Linked DNA regions of Homo sapiens: all the other regions are reported to be linked to region 3. Evidence: microRNA targets listed by miRTarBase, many of them from high-throughput screens and not tested one by one. Region 3 holds a microRNA gene; each other region holds the end of a gene's coding sequence.

Region 1 (3,183 bases), not on the chromosome of region 3:
GAAAATTCAGTGCTACTACAATGGGAAAAAAATCATTCAAGGACAATTTGTACTTATTTTTAAATGGCTTTAGTCAGGCTGCCAAGAGTGATATCAGGTTTGATTCTCACATACATAAATGCCAGTCCCAAAAAGCAACTCTAACTTGTGCACCTGGCTTAAAACAAAATGTACTGAAAACTTTGTATTTGTTAATTGGGATAACCCACCCATTCAGGCCTCAATTCCCTTTGGACTTGCACACGCACTTCCTACACACAGAAGTGGCCTGTTATGCAGCAATAATCATAGTGAAAAGCAGCAATTCCGTGAAGGCTCCACAGAGAAATCGCGTTTGCATTTCAAACAAGTTTCCTCAAAGTAAGCGTCTTTCGATTAAATGAAATCACAATTCCAGCTTCTTATCCACAGAAAACAGCATTCACTATGTAACTTACTGCTTTTTATAAGTGCATAATTTCTGTCACAGTTACCCACATATTTATACAATTTAACAATACTAAGTTAAATAATGTATTTATGGTTTGTTTCAGGAACCTGGTGACACTTGCTGGCCTGGTTTTTACAGTTTGGTATTATGTGAAAATACTAATTTCTTATTAGCATTTTTGGACCTTCCATTTGTTCTGGTTTTAGTCCCTAAGAAGCTAGCTTCCAGCAGGATTAGAGTAATAAGAAGAGATGACAACTTCCTTTTCCTAACCTTATCAAAAGCTCTATGGTTAAAAAAAAAAAAAAAAAGAAAACCTTCACCTTTGCAAATGGCACTAACATGCCCCAAATAGTGACTCGAAAAGCTTTTCAACAAAGAACCATTCTAAGCTTTTTGTGAATCAAACTCAACATCTCAGTCTAGTCACACAGAAAGCCTAGTTTGTAGGATTAGCACATTAAAATAGCATATACTTAACTCAAAATTCTAAGAGTACTTATCTATGTTATATTTGAAATCAAAGAATATTAATGTGAAAAAAAACAAAGACCCGATCTCAAAAACTATAAAAGTTTCTACAGTTTAAGATCTCCTGTCTTGGTAAAATCAACACAATCTTCTAAAAAATTTAAATTGCATATATTTTGAAGTAATTTCTCACTTTTTACATGTTGAAAATAAAAGCTTTTCAAAAAATGTTATTTTTGTTGACAGTCCACATACATGTCTTCAACTATCTTGTCTTAATGGTTGATCAATGTTGATCTAAATGAAAAACTCACTCCTCTGGCTACCCCTCCCCAAAAAGAAAAGGGACGTAATGTTAGACTTACTCAATACAGGAGTAACATTTGCCAAACAAAAAGTCACTTATGTAACCCAATAGGCCCACAAAGCTGAAAATCATCAAAAAATTATGCAAAAATTTGTATTTAGCTCCAATATTAAAATATTACCACAAATACAAAATGGTATTAAGTATGAATATGACTTATCTTTTCAAAAACATTAATAAACTGTTTCTCTTGCCAAATTAGCCCCTAACTAGAACATCTTTGTGCATGTATCGCTGAGGGCTTATATAACTTACACTACCCTTTCACAGAAGAATGACAAAATTCTTAATAGAGGCAAGTCTTTGAGTAGGGAGATGGGGAAAAGTAATGAAGGATGATATGAGACAGAGTTGGCTGACTGCTATTCTGATACTCCACAGATGAACACTAATAAAGTAACTACCCATCTTTTCTAACTGAACTTTATATGTAATCATCATGGGTCTCCAGCTGTACTGTAAATGCTACAAAGGCAAAGACTAAGCACCTGTGAGGCAGAATATGCTAGGAGAAGAGTATGTGTTTTAAAGTCAGACAGACCCAGATAAAAATCCTGGCTCCATCCTGTACTGTTGAACCTCATAAAAGTGACTTCACTTCTCTCAGCTTCATTTTCCTTATACGTAGAAACAAGAACAAGCAATACATACCTCAAGAAGACATTGAAAGGACTCAATTACTTAATAAGACAACTTAACATAGCGCTAGCAAATAATAACATTCCTTAGTTCTCTTTCCTTCTACTACCCTTACAGTGTGTAGAAGACCATAGCTGCAAAATGCAGGCTTGATAACTTGAGCAACTGATACATTTCTCTGATTTTGTTTAATTATATACATAAAGGTAAGAGGCCTTTTCACAGGTATTAATTAAGTTTAAAAATAACCGCCATCCAACACAAAATAGTATTTCTTGTTATATTTCATAAACAGTCTAACAAAACACTAACAAAGTTATTTTGCTTATTATTCTGATGCTGGAATAATTTGGTCAAATATTCATAAATAGTTATCAACTTTACCAAGGCACAAAAATCAAGAATACATGCTTTCTATAAACTCATTTACTACTTTAAAGTTTTTAACTGTTTAGCAGTTATAGGAAATTTTTTTAATCGAAAAGAAAACTATTTACATTTCAAATACAAAAGAAAATTAAAATTATTCTTGATTGATCTCTAAAACCCAACCACTTAGATGCTCATTATTATTATTTTCTTTCACCAATCCAGTATACTCTATTCAACATGTGCATCCTGTGTACTTACTAAGCATTTATTTGCACAAGGATTTTCTGTGTCAGGTTAACTTTGCTGTGTAGATTCTGTGTAGCTACCTGAATTCGTCCAAGAAAAAGTCTCACATTTTTTGGAAAACCAATGCTGCTACACTGTTTCCAGATCTGCCTCCAAAGCTGAACTTGGGTGTTGGTAGCTCTTCGAGAAGTTCAAATCCTGTCAGACAAAATTTAAATACTTTTATTAAGAATTGAGTCTCATACTTACATGTATTTATATGCATGCATTAACACTGTACCATTGAACCCTTTGTAAAACTATGATTCCAAACTCTAAATTGTGCTGAATTTCACTTCATGATTTTTCAATTCTACTATGTATGTACAGCATATGTATGCTCCTCCAAAATCACTTTGAATTTAACAAGGAAAAGACAAGACCAAAAACAATTTGGAAAAAACAGGCTTTCCATCCACCTCCCATTTCCTCCACTTCCTGTTTGTCATCTCTGCAAAGCTGTATCTCTGTTAGCCTCTATCACCTGGTTTGTAGGAAGCAGCTAGCATGTGTCGAGTTTTTTTGTTTGTTTGTTTGCTTTTTGAGACGGAGTCTCACTCCATCACCGAGGCTGGAGTGCAGTGGCACAAGCTCAGCTCACTGCAACCTCTGCCTCCAG
Region 2 (3,183 bases), not on the chromosome of region 3:
AGGTAGCAAAATACCTTCCACCCAGCATTGTGGGGAGCATCTCCAAACAGTGAATGTATCTGGAGTTCAGAACCGTGACTTTCTGATTCATTTCTAATTCAAATCCTCCCAGATTGATGTCTTCCCATTAAGACCCTACTCTATGGTAATTGCTTTACTAGGAACAGCGTTGAGATATTCTTGAGCTGACACTTTCCCCTCCTGTTTTCCAGGATCAGTACAAGTTCTGCTACGAGGTGGCCCTGGAATACTTGAATTCTGGCTGATGGTGTAAACAGCTCTGCAAACAATCCCTTTCATACCACAAAGCCAAGACGTTCCATGGTATTTGTGCAAAAGAGATGAAGACTTCTCAATATGCTTATTTTGCTTTGCATAATTGGCTCTTTTTAAGAGCCCAAGAAAGTGTTTCTAAAATTGCTTGCACTGCCCAATCCCAGTAATGCTGCTGCCTGACAGAAACACACACACAGCCACAGTTGCCAAATCCCGTACTCCTTGCCACCGGCTTCCTAGAGCAGCGTAGACAGCTGGTAAACTGAAGAGCACAACTATATTCTTATGAAGGAATTTGTACCTTTGGGGTATTATTTTGTGGCCCGTGACCCTCGTTATTGTTACAGCTGAGTGTATGTTTTTGTTCTGTGGAGAATGCTATCTGGCATTATGGTAATATATTATTTTAGGTAATATTTGTACTTTAACATGTTGCATAATATATGCTTATGTAGCTTTCCAGGACTAACAGATAAATGTGTAATGAACAAAGATATGTTGTATGAGTCGTCGTTTCTGTCAGATTTGTATTGTTTCCAAGGGAAAAGCTTGGGGGAGGACTCAGTTCACAAAATGCAAAACTCAACGATCAGATTCACGGACCCAGAGCTTTTCCATGTGTTTATATTGTAAATATTTTTGATTTCATCAAATTATTTATTCATTAAAAGAAATTTTTGTGAAGCACAGTGAGTGACAATCATTTTTCTTAAGGCCTGGAAACGATTTTCTGTATGATGTTACTTTATGTGAATTCTCATCTCAATAAATGATGACCCGTGAGCAGCCGTGGCATGTTCCTGGTGTCCCAGTGCACAGGCGGTGGAGGCCGCACCCGACACGCCAGCACACAGGGGGAGAGAGTGCGGCCGGGGCCTGTTTGCCGGAGCAAGTAGAGTAGAGTTTTTTTGAGAGAGAGTGTTCGTCAGTGAGAGCACTGAGCCCTTCACGGTGGCCTGCCCTGGTGCCGGGGAGGCTCAGCCATGAGCCTGCACCATGGGGCGTGAGCCCTGACCTTGTGGGGCAGCCAGGCCAGGGGCCATGGCAGAGACTTGCTAACTGGAGCATCGTCTTCCTTTCTCTGTTTCCCCTCAGTCTGCGGGGGATAATATCTCTCTTCTCTATGCCTCAGGCCAACCTAAGACTTGCTGAGAGAACAGTTTTTAAAGGGTTAGAGAATCAGAGTGCATTGAAGGACACCGAGCTGAACAAGTTCCCACCAGAGCACCTGCTCTGCGCCACCCTGGGCTCTGGCCGCTGACACAGAAGGCAGGTGCACGGTGGCCTTGCAGCTTGCATTTAGCTTGGGTTTTAGGCTGTGTTAACGATTGCCAAGAGCTGACAGAGGCAAAGCTCTGTCGAACACCTCTTGTGAACCAGATACCATGCAGAGCATCTTCCTGTGTGGTAGCACGTGCTCCCCAAACATGAGCCAGGTACAACTGCGAAACCCACCTGACAGATGAAGAAACTCAAGCTAGAAAAGATTAAATAACCCGTCCAAAGTCACACTGGCTAGCAAGTGCCAGAAGCCTCCAGAGCCCATGGGAGGTGGAAGGGCAGCACCCTCACCATGGCAGAGGAGCAGAGTCTGCTAGTGCCGAGACAGAGACTGGCCCGCCACCCGCTGTGGGAAGTGGAGAGGCTTGAGGGCACTGTTCCTGCCTGCTCTGGGGATCTTGGTGACCAAAGACTTCAAGGGCAGAGGTTGCCCTCCAAGAGGACTGACCTGGACATCTGCGTGTTAGACCTTTACTGCTTCGCTGTACCCTGAGCAATCTATATGCCCCGATTGGTGTAAGTTTCTCTAGACCCCTCCTTAAACTGGGTGGGTGGGACCCTGTCCTCCCCCAGGAAGAGCTGGCTGCAGCGGAGCTTCGAGTCTGTACTCAATGCCTCACATTCAGACTCCTCCTGGAGGATGGCCCCTCGCCATCCCACCCAGTTCTCTTTGCTAAGCTCCTAAGAGACTAGCAGGCTGCTATTTTTGTCTGTCCCTCTTCCAAATGATTTCTCCAGGATATAGGAATAGGGATGAAGACATATGGACCGCTGCACCCTTTGCGGGTGAGCTGGGCCCTGACCAGGGGAGTGTGGTGAAGCCCTTGGCCCTCCGTGATCATGGCGGCGTGGCTCTGGGCTCCAGTCCGTCAGCATGGGTGAAAAGACGGCTCATCTGAGCATGGCGAGGAAGTGACCTCAGATGTGTGAGTCTAATGACACCGCCACTTCCCAGTCATTCCCTGCGTCGTCATACCCCGGTCTCACATGGGAGCCAGTTGTTTTCAATCTCTTGGATTTTTATCTTTCTTTCACTTATTTCACCTTTTAGCGGAAACAGTGATAGAAAAAAAAAGGCACAGGCATTTTGTGGCTTTTTCAGATTTCCCACGAGGCCTCACAGCATGGTTGAGACCTGTTATTTCCAGTACACTGAGAAAGTCTCTGCCCCTCGCAAGCAAGAGAAGCCACCCTCTTGGCTGAGAGTCCTTCTCTGTCTTCTCGCAGTGCTCTGGGTTCCCCTCTGTTGTGGCATCCGGAACCCCCCAGACACTTCAAAGCCTGTGACTGCTCTGGAAGCTGATGGTCCTGCCCCTGGCACGGTCCCCCTCTAAGTCAGCTTCACAGCAGCACCTCATGATGCTTTTGTAACGTGTCAGCACAGCAAGACTGAGGTGTGTTTCCAGAATTCCATTCTCTGTATATTTCCAGATGGGGTGCGCTGCAGGGGTCATTTGGTGTAAGACGTAGAGGCAGAAGGGAAACAGCAGCCACATTGTTTTTACACTCAGAAAGTGGAGCAGCTGTGGGCCCCGCAGGTGAATAACAATGGTGTGAGCTCCTCCACCTCTCTCCTAAGGGCCCTCCTAGCCTCTGCTCACTGGGTCAAAACTCATGCCTGCATTT
Region 3 (3,183 bases):
TAAAGGCGTGGCCACAGAATCATCAGTATCCCAACATCTTGCCTTTGTATCGTGTGTTTACATACTTTTCCAAATACTTTGTTTTTTCTTTTTTTTCTTTTTTTAATTTGTGACAACCTTGAAAGACAAACAGAGTTAAGGCAGTCCAAAAAATAATTACAGACAAGAAAACTGGGGCCTCTGGAGGTTAAGGATTTGTCTGAGGCTACTCTCTGGGGGCTCTTCCTCCAGGCCTCATACTGTGTTCCTTATGTCATTACCTGTTCATCAGAACCGACTATGCAGTAGTGACCAGAGCAGGAAATGGAGGTGAATGTGTTTGGTTACAAAAATTCCCGGTGAAACTGGCTAGTCTTATGATGAGCTTTGGCCTATACATTGGACACTTCCTGGGTGAGGCCCAAGATTGGCCCCAGGATTACTAAATAGTGACTATAAGTTACCCAGCCGTGTACAAGTCAATCTGCACAAACCAAAAAAGCATGATTTAAATTCATTTTAAACCTCTGTCCCATGTTTGTTATTTTCTGTAGATTCAATCAAATTATCTTAAGGAAACAAATGAAGTGTCAAGCTATAGGGGTTGACTTAATCTAGTCACTCACTCAATGGAACCTTTTTCAGCCATTGCAAATAATAATGATAGAGAATATACAGAAACCTGGAAAATGCTTATGATATCAACTTAAAAAAAATCAGGGCCACAAAATCACATGGACACCATGATTGAAAAATAGGAGCAGAACCTGGAGGAAACCTGCAAAACAGACATACTTGTTACTTAAGGGTGGTGGGATTAGAGCTGAAGTTTCTTCTTTCTCTACTTTTTCATGGTTTTGTGTGTGTGTGTGTGTGTGTGTGTGTGTGTGTGTGTGTGTGTGTGTGAGATGCCACGTTTTCTTGTTATGTTGTCAAAATATAATTCTCTAAAAAGTCTTTAGGGGTCATGGGTGATACAGAAATTTGGGATCGGTCAAGGATGCACAGATCTCAGACATCTCGGGGATCATCATGTCACGAGATACCAGTGTGCACTTGTGACAGATTGATAACTGAAAGGTCTGGGAGCCACTCATCTTCATAGCAAAACATGTGGTAAGTATTACAAGACGAATCAATGAAAAGATCAGGAGGAAAGTGGGCCCTAAGCAAAGAAGAAAGGGGTTGCTATGGGATGGGGTGGGAGGATGAGTTGTGTTTTCATAGGAGTGTAATGGGAATGCCTTTATTTGTGTCTTTATTGCTTTAAATGTTTGTTGAATGAATTGAAACTTACATAAGGTATATGATTTTATACTTGTGCTAGAATGCTAAAATAAAGAATTTATGCTCAAGCAAACAACTGGAAAACACTTTGCTATAAGCATTACAGACACAGGGTCATTTTTAGTATGTTGAGTCCACACAAGTGGTCAAGAAAAACCATAAAAACTACATGAACAGAAAGCCCCAGTTAAAAAAAATGCATAAAGATGCTCATTTCAATATTTTAAGGATGGAAGTTAGGAACATCCTGAATGACCAACAACAAAGGATTAGACAAATAAAATACAGCGTAGCTAGCTAGTACAATAGAATAGGATGCTTTCATGTAAAATAATGTTTCTGAAAGTAATTTTCATGTCATGAGAATGTGCTCCTGATAAAACATTTAGCGATTGAAAAAAGGTGCAAAATATTTTCCCATCTCTGCAATATAGGTATATAGGGAGCATTCTGTATGAATAGTTTTGTATCAACATACAGATAAAAGGCTAGGAGGAAACATATAAAAACTTTATTGTGATTATCTCTGAGTTGTGGTATAAAGGTGACCAAAGAAAGATGCTAAACTATTTTTGCGATGTGTTCCTAATATGTAATATAAATGTATTGGGGACATTTTGCATTCATAGTTTTGTATCAATAATATGGGGAAAAGAGGCTATCAGGAAGTATACCAAAAGTCTAGAGGTGGTTATCGCTGACTTGTGTCACTATAGGCAATCAAAAACGATACTAAACTGTTTTTGCGATGTGTTCCTAATATGCACTATAAATATATTGGGAACATTTTGCATGTATAGTTTTGTATCAATATACAGATGAAAAGATGGAGGGAATAAGCAAAAAATCTAACAGCGGCTATCTGTGGTTTACTTCTGTGATAAATGTAAGATGCAGAATTATTTTTGCAATATGTTCCTGAATATGTAATATAAGTGTATTGGGATCATTTTGCATCCATAGTTTTGTATCAACATATGGAGAAAAGTCTAGGAAGAAATATACCAAAACTTGTAACAGTATTATAGTATAAAATTATAGGTAATGTTTGTTTTTCTCTTTATACTTTTATGTATTTTCCAAGTAATATTTGCATAAACAATAAAATGCATTGCTTTTATAGCAATAATAAAACATTTTATTTTTAAAAAGAGTTTGTATTTTTTTTAAAGCATGAACCCCTGACATAAGGGTGGGGGAAGACTTCCTATTTGGCCAGCAGTGGGCCTAGAATACTTTTTCAAACATATCTGGGAAACCTTTGTACAACTTCAGTTGGATCTGCAGTGCAAATGTGTTTTCATTTGCTCTTGGCAAAGAAAAGAGAAAGTATAACTAAAAAATATAACCACGACAGAGTTATAATAGTAATATTAGTAAACAAACTGCTATCTATGTCTAATCAAAGTAACATTTAAAGAAGTATAGAAAGCTGAAACAGGCTCCTTTTCCTCTAGTAGCAATTCAGGAAGGTGGTACTTGGATGCTCGCCCAGGGCCTCAAGACGCATTGGCCAGTTTGAGATATGCCCAAGTCAGGAAAACACCTTATTTAGGTTATTTCCACTCAGCCAACTTCTTGCAGATGCGGGTAAAGCCCCCCCTGCATTTTCCCGCAAATTCAGCTGAGCTCCATAGTAACTCTGGTGTTGCAGAACACATGTGACACCTCAATTTAGGCGATCCTTGTTCTGGTAAGAGATGGAACCATTTGGTCACGTACCTGGCCCATGGTCTGAAGGGCACCTACCAAGGTTTTAGCGTTCCTCAGTGGCACTGATTTGGACAGAGACACATTACAGGAGGATCTAAGTTCCTTCCTATCTTTTTAGTAGCATTTTGGGAAACTGTTCCCCCACCAAGGACATATTTGGCACTCTAGCAAGTCCATATGACTAGACATTACTTTCTTTTTTTT
Region 4 (3,183 bases), not on the chromosome of region 3:
TTAATTTGAAATAATTTTAAACTTAAGCAGTTGCAGAGACTGCAGCAAGCTCCTGCACACTCCATCCTGCTATTTTAACAGGATACTTAATCAAAAAAGTATGCTACTTTCTTAAAATTTTTTGAATAATAACCTAAATTCTTTGTTTATCTTTTAGGTTATAAAGTTTTAGCACTTTTGGATGTGCCTGATAAGAGTCAAGAAAAAGCTGATTTATACATCCATGTGACATACATCAAAAAGTGGGATATATGTGCTGGTAATGCCATCTTAAAAGCCCTAGGGGGGCATATGACTACCCTGAGTGGTGAAGAAATCAGTTACACTGGTTCAGACGGCATTGAAGGGGGACTCCTTGCTAGCATCAGAATGAACCACCAGGCCCTGGTCAGAAAACTCCCAGATCTAGAAAAGACAGGACATAAATGAGCATAACTGATTACAGGGTACAGTTCTTCACAGCTGAAATGGTTAGCCTGAGATGCTGGAAGCTTCAAAGGATTGGTGGAGACTATGCATGGTTAAGGCCATCCCGAACTTTTTAAAGTATTTATGAAGCATCAGAGACTTATTTTCCCTGTAATAGAATGCAAAATCAGGGAAAATGGGTTGCTTTGTGTCTCAAGTATTGTCTTTATTTTTGAGACTATTTTCATACAGTTGTCATACACAAGGCGCATATATATATTTGTGAATTAAAATCTGTAGCTGAGTCTACATTGTTATGAGTCACCATTTTCACACAACATCATGAATCTTCACTGTTAGTACTTTCATATAGAATTCGGTTGAAGGAAAGATTGATTTTTGTGTAGATGTTTAATATAACTTTACAACTATATCTCATTGAAAATAAAGTCATTGGGGATTTTTACCTCTAATTTGGATGGAAAGCACAAGAAGCCACACATTCATTAATATGCAACAAATGTTGTATTTATGTTACTGAATATTTCTATGGATTAAAATAGAAAAAGTTTAATTGATTTTTTCTTTTAAATTTTAATAACAGGTTCACCAGCTGGTAGAAAATAGAGACACATGATGATTTGCATTGTAATAATTTCTGTGTGTATGTGTGTGTGTTGTTTTGTTTTTATAAAGAAAAGTGTGTTTGTACCCATGAGTTCAGCATTTCTGCCATCTTGCTATTTTCATTTTCCCTGTGGAAGATGCATGGTTGCATCCTTTTCCTTCTGACCAACACTTAGTCTTTAACTTTGTAAGGTTCGGTTTAAGGTTTCAGGGTTAGCACTATAGTTTTGGTTCATTTTCTCATTAACGATAAAATATGCTGTAAGGCACTATAAGAATATAAATGATTCTATTACAATTGAAAGTTACTTGACATTACATGAATTGAACTGCCTTTCATTATCTTCAGACACTTTGTTTTAGTATTTTTTTTTAATTTGCTAGGTTTGTATATAGAAGATCCTTTCATTATCAAGAATGAGTATGGTTGCTTTTGCCATGGTTGCTTTTACTATTAATAAATGTATCTAGCCTACCCAAACTCTGTAGTAACTTTTGAGATTCTCTTAATTTCCCCTCAGATTAAAATAGAGAAGGTTGAAGGTACTTTTTGATGAAATTTTTTTCTAGTCTGGTTAGAAAAAAAAAGTTGTGACATATTCATTGTGTTACCGTAACTAGAACCTTGCTTTGTGAACTGTCTTTCATTGGGATGTATGGTTTCTCTCAATGTGAAATCTGGAAACTTCATGTAAACTACCCATGCCGTTATTTCATGTGACTCCAGTGCCCTTGTATTCCATAACATGCTGATGAGAGGGATTTCTCACGGTTTCTTTCTTTGCTAAATTTTTTAACCATAAAGCAGCTTACCCTTTATTTTCCCATCTTGGAAGTAAAATTGACCAAAGAATGTACGTTCTAGCCTGGTGGAATGTGCATACTTTAGGTTTGTATGTTACATTGTCCAAAGCCCTTTACTTTCTTATTAGTAAACTGAATCTAATATGACACAAATGTTTTCACCCAATCTCTTGCAACTGGTCAAATTCGAGAAGGTGTTGGGCCTTAGCAGTAGGCCTTTTCAGTGAAAATTCATTCAAAGTTTTGGTAGGTGGAACACTTGATATTTAAATAGGACTTGAAAATTTTGAAAAGAGTATCAGAGACCTCATTTTTTTCCTTTGCAATAAGCTGAAGAAACTTTCTTTTTCAGGAGAGATGGCAAAGGTATATGCTGTTGCCAGAGTCCTGTGGTATAAGCATCTGTTTTTATTATAGTATGTCAAAGTTAGGGAAATGGGACTGGCAAGTAAAAAATGGAATTTAATTTCAATGTTTTATGGGAACTCTGATTTAATGGGAAGCAAACTAGTTCATATTAGCAGGAATTATTTTATTTTTTCGAGACAGAGTTTCACTCTCGTTGGCCAGGCTGGAGTGCAATGGCGTGATCTCGGCTCACCGCAACCTCTGCTTCCCGGGTTCAAGCGATTCTCCTGCCTCAGCCTCCCAAGTAGCTGGGATTACAGGCATACACCACCACACCCAGCTAATTTTTTTGTATTTTTGTTAGAGACAGGGTTTCTCCATGTTGGTCAGGCTGGTCTCGAACTCCCGACCTCAGGTGATCCGCCCACCTCGGCCTCCCAAAGTGATGATTTTATTTTTATTTTTAATTGTATTAATCTGCATCTAGATAATGACTTTGTGAAGGGTGTGTGTTGTGTGCAAAACTTAAGGTATTGGTTGAGAGTTAAATACATTATTTTTATAATATGTTGGGTATAGTCTAGTTACTAATGATTTTTTTTAAGTACTTTTATAAAAAGTTCATTTTTAAAATTGTTTGTTTTTAAAAGCCAATATACGTTGCAGAATTAGGAACAGTATTTATATTTATTTACACAAGACATTGTGCCATAGCATCCTAGTAAAACACCTTCATGAATGAGTAATGTTATCTCCCAGAATTACATTAAAATTATTTCTAAAAAGTAGCAAAGTCATTACCTTTTGCTTTTAATGACCCACACCTCACCAGCTCCTGGTCTTTTCTTCACTGTTGCCCTTATTTTGAGGCAATTTTTCTTAAAATATGACTTTTATGCACCACATTTAGTAGAGGCAGTGACATCAGTGATCTCAGTACCCATCAGCTGTCCCCCTCCTCTGCCCTTCTTCATCTCTTCTACCTTGTGACCATTT
Region 5 (3,183 bases), not on the chromosome of region 3:
TACCGCCGCCTTGAAGTTTTAGATAGTACGAAGTCTTCAAGAGAAAGCAGCGAGGCTAGGAAAGGTTTCTCCTATTTGGTAACTGGAGTAACTACTGTGGGTGTCGCATATGCTGCCAAGAATGCCGTCACCCAGTTCGTTTCCAGCATGAGTGCTTCTGCTGATGTGTTGGCCCTGGCGAAAATCGAAATCAAGTTATCCGATATTCCAGAAGGCAAGAACATGGCTTTCAAATGGAGAGGCAAACCCCTGTTTGTGCGTCATAGAACCCAGAAGGAAATTGAGCAGGAAGCTGCAGTTGAATTATCACAGTTGAGGGACCCACAGCATGATCTAGATCGAGTAAAGAAACCTGAATGGGTTATCCTGATAGGTGTTTGCACTCATCTTGGCTGTGTACCCATTGCAAATGCAGGAGATTTTGGTGGTTATTACTGCCCTTGCCATGGGTCACACTATGATGCATCTGGCAGGATCAGATTGGGTCCTGCTCCTCTCAACCTTGAAGTCCCCACGTATGAGTTCACCAGTGACGATATGGTGATTGTTGGTTAAGAGACTTGGACTCAAGTCATAGGCTTCTTTCAGTCTTTATGTCACCTCAGGAGACTTATTTGAGAGGAAGCCTTCTGTACTTGAAGTTGATTTGAAATATGTAAGAATTGATGATGTATTTGCAAACATTAATGTGAAATAAATTGAATTTAATGTTGAATACTTTCAGGCATTCACTTAATAAAGACACTGTTAAGCACTGTTATGCTCAGTCATACACGCGAAAGGTACAATGTCTTTTAGCTAATTCTAATTAAAAATTACAGACTGGTGTACAAGATACTTGTGAAATCTGTAACTGACTTTATTTTCTTGCCCAAATATTTGCTTCCTGCTTTGCGTCAGGGACGCAGATTCTGCACGGTCATTGTTGGGATGAAGTAAAATTAACGGGTCATCTAAGTGTCTATGGCATTGACAGAAACAGTAGTATCTAGGTATTCCTTATTTACCGGACTTGGTAAGAGTCCTGGCTATGCATTTCCTCCCTACTGTGTAAGCCGTGTGATAATCTCAACACTAATCTGTGGGAAAGAGTCCTGAATGAGGCATTAGTAGCTCTGAGGGTTTATCTTCACGTCTGGTCTGCTGGTTTTTCTCCTTAAGTGACAGGCCAGGAAATTTTATTAGTCCCTTATGAGTGTAAATTAGTACTTAATCCTTTAGTCTTAATAGGCAGTGATGGGATATTACCTGAGAGAAACTTTCCAAAATGAGAGTGCTCTGCCATTTCGTTCATTTTGTGTGTGGTTCATCATGTCCCCAAAGTTCCTGCATCCACTCTATCAGGAGGCAGAAAGGGAGCATCTGAGACCTAATACTGCCTGCATGCAGAAGTGGTCCTGCTGGGTTTGTTTCTGTAGTGATGACACTTTGAATGTTTTTTCCTGTTGGGTTTACAGTCACTCAGCACTTTTCACTGTAAGATGGTGTGGAACCAGACGCAGAGCACATCGGAATTCACATCCTATTCTGCCTCCAATTACACAGGTGAAACAAGACTAAGGTCCATTTTCCCCTGGGAGTTGGGAGTGGGCTTTGTCCTTTGAGAATCACAGTCACTTTTTGATGTGTTTGTCTTTGCTGTTTAGAGGTGGACCAGTCGTGCTTTACTGAGTCTACCTGATAATCTCATGTACACTTTTTTAAAATGGCAAAAATGGTTAGGTTGGGTCTGCCCAAAGGGAACTGACCATCCAGGATTCCAGCCTTTGATGTTAATAGCTAGGTGTTGACAGAAAAAAGAAAATGTCAAACTTTCTATGCTTATGAGTAGATACTAGTCTTTGCTTCATTTTTACCATTCTAGAAATGAAATTAGCATGTGTGATAATTGGTGGGACACAGAAGTATTTTATATTCTGTGTCTCTAGATAGTGGAGGCACTCTTCGGATTGGGGGTTGGAGGAAGGGTTGGTGGCAGAGTTGGAATGTGAAACATTGAGTTGTGAGGGGAACACAGGTCCACACACTAAAAAACCTGTGCTGCCAAAAATGTCAACAGCACCCCCTCCCTATAGAGAAATACTGATAACCTATATCACCTCCCACCCTGAAGTGATACCTTGAAATTCTACATGGCAGTGGAGGACAGAAGTAGGAAGTTTGCAGGTCTCTAGGTACTCACTTAGTGCCGGAATTGCTATATTTGGTGGCTGCTTACTTCATCTTTCATATTTAGAGTTTGATGGTGGGATGCTGTTAAATTGTAGTAGACCATTTAGTTTTTAAAGAAGGCTTTGTTCCACAAGTGACAGGACAAGTCAAGTCACTTCATGCTGTTTTGCTGAATGGATACGGCAGACCTGTGTTAACATTTTTACCATTCTGTGAAAACAAAATCCTAGATAGTAGGAGAAAATTACTTACAGAATAAACCTGACCAGCTAGCACCCTGACATCAGATCATTAACCTACTGCATTTTATTGGGGATAATTCTTGGGACAATCTTGAGAGCCAAGTGTTTTCATTATGCTTTAAAAAGTGTTATAAAAATGGCCTTTTTGAAAATGTTGCATTATTTGTTAAAGATAACATCAAATTTTCTTTGGTCTTTCTGAGCATACCTTTGTAAAAACTTTGACTCAATCTGAGTGTATAGAGGGCATTTGTCCTGACTGGATCAAAATGTGCTTTAGTACCCTCATTTTTCTAAACTGTAGGAACATACTATTTAAATATCAGAAGTAATTCTTCATTCTCACAGTACTAAATTTCATTTTCTGTATTTTCATGTCGTTTGAATTTCATTGCATTTTGTATATTAACCCAAAATAATGTTTATATTTTATGGACTGTTATCCTTAGCCCACTGTTCTAACACACTTTATCACCACCTATTTGCTGGTGACTCCCCACAACCACTTCCCTGAGTTTCATATTCATGTGCTTACTGGGCATATATGTTTGGATGTCCTGTTGACACCTTAAACTCAAACTGTCTGAAAGGAAAAGATGTCATCTCTGTTTCCAATGAACCAGCTTCTCTATTTTAGTCAGTTGCCTCTCCATCGACCTTGTTAACTACCCGCCAGGCGAAAAACCTGTTAGTTTTCCCTGCCTCCTTTCCATCCATTATCTCCTCTCCACTTTGCCCCAAATCAGTCCCCTAGTTCTGCCAATCTACT
Region 6 (3,156 bases), not on the chromosome of region 3:
GACAAGCACTCTTATCACAAACACATGGATAGCTTATCACGGAGAACACATTTCAAAGGCCAGCAAAGTGAGCAAGCTATTCACACAAAGCCAGGAGGGATTATGACTAAACTCTCCAGTTTATAAGCACAAGTCCACATCTCACCTCCTCAGAACAGGTGCTCAATGGCAATTAACTAAAAGTTATGACATGAACATTACAGACTTTCCAGCTAGCATTTTGTAAACAGCCTGTGTCTGTAAGTCAGCAAATTAAAAACATTCAGTTGTATCCTCTAGACAGAACACCACACCACTACATGTACACTTACAGGCTTTCACATTTTATGTCAGTTCATACACAAATGTACAACTTGTCAGATACGTAAACACATTTTGCCAGAAATATGACAGCTGCTTTCAGTTGTACAGTGAGTGTCTTTAAGAGAGAAACCGACTCCCTAGTCAACACTTGAAGGAAAAATAGTTACATTTACATTAAGACAGAGTTTGGATACCTTTATATTTTTCAATCTTGAATGAGAAGTAATAATACAGCATGTCTGAGAATAGAGCGCTTCAAACTTTTTTTGGCATAGTTAAGTGCAAACTTGATAACCTGTACTTGTCACAACTCTCCATTGTAAAATGGCGAAAATATAGGTTGTTCACGATAGGATTTTAAACTGCTGCTAAAGGCAATTTATTGTTTCGGCAAAAAAAAAAAAATTGCTAAGAAGCTGTGTAAGCTTTTTTTTTTTTTTTTTTTTTTTGCATTCGTTTCTGATAATTCTGGGTACTTCCAACTAACAGGTAAATACATTTTAAAGAGTATATTCTTCTTCTGTCTGGAACTACTCAATGAGCACAAAGAAAACATTTTCTGTCTTCCTTAACAGATTTAGGTATTGGTGGGTGTGGGGCACAGAACATGAGCAAACAGCTTCTGTTTATCCTCTCAGCCACAAATTCGCTTTTAGGTATATTTTCCTATACCCTTTTGCAAATTACAAAATCACCTTCAGAGGAACTATGGGTAGATGGGATTCCAATATGCATATCTGGCAACAATCAGCTTCAAATCAAACCCTTTCTGGGGTGGCTAAGATCCAGCTAATGTGTCATCAGCAAAGGCCTCTAATATGTGTTTGCGTAGTAATGGAACAGTTTTTAATTGGGCCTGTTTATAGTTGACTGACAGTAAGTTCTATATGGTATATAACACTAATTCTCTAGTCTTCTGGGCATATCTACGAACAAATACAATCCAAATATTATGAGTAACTGGGTTGTGACCACTGCATGCATTACACTGAAAGAAACACCAACTCGAAGCACAAATATATTATTCTTATATTTCGGCTCAGCTCTCAGTGGGGAGAGCAGCTACCTCGGACCACAATGCCATTTAAACCAGATTCTTTTCAAATAAAATTCTCAATCTAAGTGGAAAGCCCCCTCAGAGAATGCCTTATTCCCCTACTAAGCAATCCAGGCTTGTATAAAACGTCTGATAAGGCCTGTAGTGCCCATTGAGTATGAGTCTGCTGTTTACATTCTGCACAGGCCAGGAGGGGAACAGAAGGTGTGAGCCACAGGTGCTCCTGGGTCTGACCAGCAAGTCTAACCCATGAAGATCTCGAGCTCCAAAACCATTCTAGAGCCCACCATTTTGATTGTTACACATGTGTTTCAGATGTATGTTATGGCATATCTGAAACAGCAGAGTTCTCAGTTTTTTGTGTGTTTGTTTTTGCTAAGCTAAACAAGTTTTGCTAGAGTTCGCTAAAACAAGGTGCTCAGAGTGTAAGCTCCTCTGTCAGGAAATCGGCAGCACTGGTCACGATAAAGGAGAAATCGTCCTTTGTCAAGCACAGAATTACTCCTTCCAGCAGCTCTACATGTTCCCATCCTCAAGAAATTGCACCAAGAGTGAGCTACCTGCCTATCCCTGGAAAAGATTCAGAAGCTCCTAATCCAGAATCCAGGGAGGAGATGAGCTTCCTGTGACTCTTCTCTTTTACTGGGATGTTCCCCTGACCTCTCATCACACTTTACTGTGTTGTGAAATATTGTTTCTCTTAGTTTGTAACTTGTCTGGTCTTTTGACTAAACAACTATCTAAAGAATATAGACCACACTCCTGCAGGGAAAGGGATGTCTTACTGGAGTTGTATTTGGAAGCTTTATAAGCACATCTGAGACGTTCTCTAGAATCAAAATATTTGTCTATATTTGTTTTTGCAGTTTTCTTACATATCAGAACCTCTGGCAGCCCTTGCAAGTCCATTATATTAAAAGCCAAAAGCCATAAATATGTACATCATAGTTCAAAGTATAAGTACCAAGAACAAAGAAAGTTGTAAAAAATGCTGTGTTTGCATTTACAGGACTAAAAACTAAGTATGCAACAGATAAATTACAAATGTACATCTCAGCAGCATAGGGGTGATTCTCTTATCTTTCTAAAAAACACACTGCTGTCTATAATGACAATCCAATTGTGGAAAATTACCAACCTCAGAAGACTTAAAGGTCACCACCCCCGCCCCTACTACCTTTCCCTTTAGCCTCTCCCCAGCAAAATAAAGAAAAGGGGGAAAAAAATAAATCCTTAAAAGTGGAAGGGGAGAGAGAAAAGGCCATGTTTGTGAGGCTGCACACTCAAAGCACACCCAGCTTGCGGATTTCTATGTTATTAGTGAATAGCTCTTTAAGGCAGAGAAGAAACATTCTGTGGATCCGGTGCTGTTGGCTCATCTCACTCACGTGGTTTCGGTGGCCGAGGATGAGGTACTTTTCTTCCTGAAGCGAGATCGAAGGATTCTAGGCGGTGCCTGGTAGAGAAAACAGAAAGGTGTCCCTCAGTTTGGTGTAAATGTGGGATCTTTTGAGGTCAGCACCTGGAAGGCATTGTGTTGAGACTTCCAGCTCCTTTGGCCAAATGCAGCTGGCTAGGGCTGGGGTCTCCCTGAATCTCCGCAACAGGAAGCAATCATCAGAGTCCCATCCCACATATCGCATGAAGCTGAGCCCTTTGAGAGGCTGATGCCTCCCTCTTAAATTATGCTCCTCAATCTCCCAAGGGAACGGTTGTGCAGAATGACACATCTTTCTTGTTTCTGCCTGAGGAGCAAAATTATCTTAAATGATTCAGCAGAAAGAGACACCTCCGCA

Evidence for each region. Region 3 holds the annotated microRNA hsa-miR-450b-5p (UUUUGCAAUAUGUUCCUGAAUA, at 2,170-2,191, shown strand). A microRNA usually pairs through its seed, bases 2 to 8, with sites in the 3' UTR of a target mRNA and lowers its output. Matches are read on the target gene's strand: a 7mer-m8 pairs with bases 2 to 8, a 7mer-A1 pairs with bases 2 to 7 and ends in A, and an 8mer does both.
Region 1: miRTarBase lists EEF1AKMT2 as a target of hsa-miR-450b-5p. Seed matches in the 3' UTR shown: 7mer-m8 at 755-761.
Region 2: miRTarBase lists PTPRM as a target of hsa-miR-450b-5p. Seed matches in the 3' UTR shown: 7mer-A1 at 332-338 and 7mer-A1 at 851-857.
Region 4: the mRNA of BPNT2 is a reported target of hsa-miR-450b-5p. Seed matches in the 3' UTR shown: 7mer-A1 at 589-595 and 7mer-A1 at 2,705-2,711.
Region 5: miRTarBase lists UQCRFS1 as a target of hsa-miR-450b-5p. Seed matches in the 3' UTR shown: 7mer-m8 at 675-681.
Region 6: miRTarBase lists REEP1 as a target of hsa-miR-450b-5p. Seed matches in the 3' UTR shown: 7mer-A1 at 2,219-2,225, 8mer at 978-985 and 7mer-A1 at 749-755.

What each region holds. Positions count from the first base shown.
Region 1 is chr10:124,757,781-124,760,963 of GRCh38, forward strand. It overlaps EEF1AKMT2 (EEF1A lysine methyltransferase 2), which reads right to left. Exons shown (of 7, transcript NM_212554.4): 7 at 54-2,723. The coding sequence ends at 2,723. Among named protein-coding and RNA genes, the nearest start is that of FAM53B, 15 kb to the left of the region's middle.
Region 2 is chr18:8,405,897-8,409,079 of GRCh38, forward strand. It overlaps PTPRM (protein tyrosine phosphatase receptor type M), which reads left to right. Exons shown (of 33, transcript NM_001105244.2): 33 at 213-960. The coding sequence ends at 266. Among named protein-coding and RNA genes, the nearest start is that of RAB12, 200 kb to the right of the region's middle. RefSeq lists an enhancer at 685-1,329.
Region 3 is chrX:134,539,239-134,542,421 of GRCh38, reverse strand. MIR450B (microRNA 450b) reads left to right here and starts at 2,160; the gene lies at 2,160-2,237. It overlaps MIR450A1 (microRNA 450a-1), which reads left to right and starts at 1,991; the gene lies at 1,991-2,081. It overlaps MIR450A2 (microRNA 450a-2), which reads left to right and starts at 1,815; the gene lies at 1,815-1,914. It overlaps MIR542 (microRNA 542), which reads left to right and starts at 985; the gene lies at 985-1,081.
Region 4 is chr8:56,961,039-56,964,221 of GRCh38, reverse strand. BPNT2 (3'(2'), 5'-bisphosphate nucleotidase 2) reads left to right here. Exons shown (of 5, transcript NM_017813.5): 5 at 158-3,183. The coding sequence ends at 429. Among named protein-coding and RNA genes, the nearest start is that of BPNT2, 31 kb to the left of the region's middle.
Region 5 is chr19:29,204,920-29,208,102 of GRCh38, reverse strand. It overlaps UQCRFS1 (ubiquinol-cytochrome c reductase, Rieske iron-sulfur polypeptide 1), which reads left to right. Exons shown (of 2, transcript NM_006003.3): 2 at 1-2,783. The coding sequence ends at 555. Among named protein-coding and RNA genes, the nearest start is that of UQCRFS1, 6.6 kb to the left of the region's middle.
Region 6 is chr2:86,214,295-86,217,450 of GRCh38, forward strand. REEP1 (receptor accessory protein 1) reads right to left here. Exons shown (of 9, transcript NM_001371279.1): 9 at 1-2,816. The coding sequence ends at 2,745. Among named protein-coding and RNA genes, the nearest start is that of MRPL35, 16 kb to the left of the region's middle.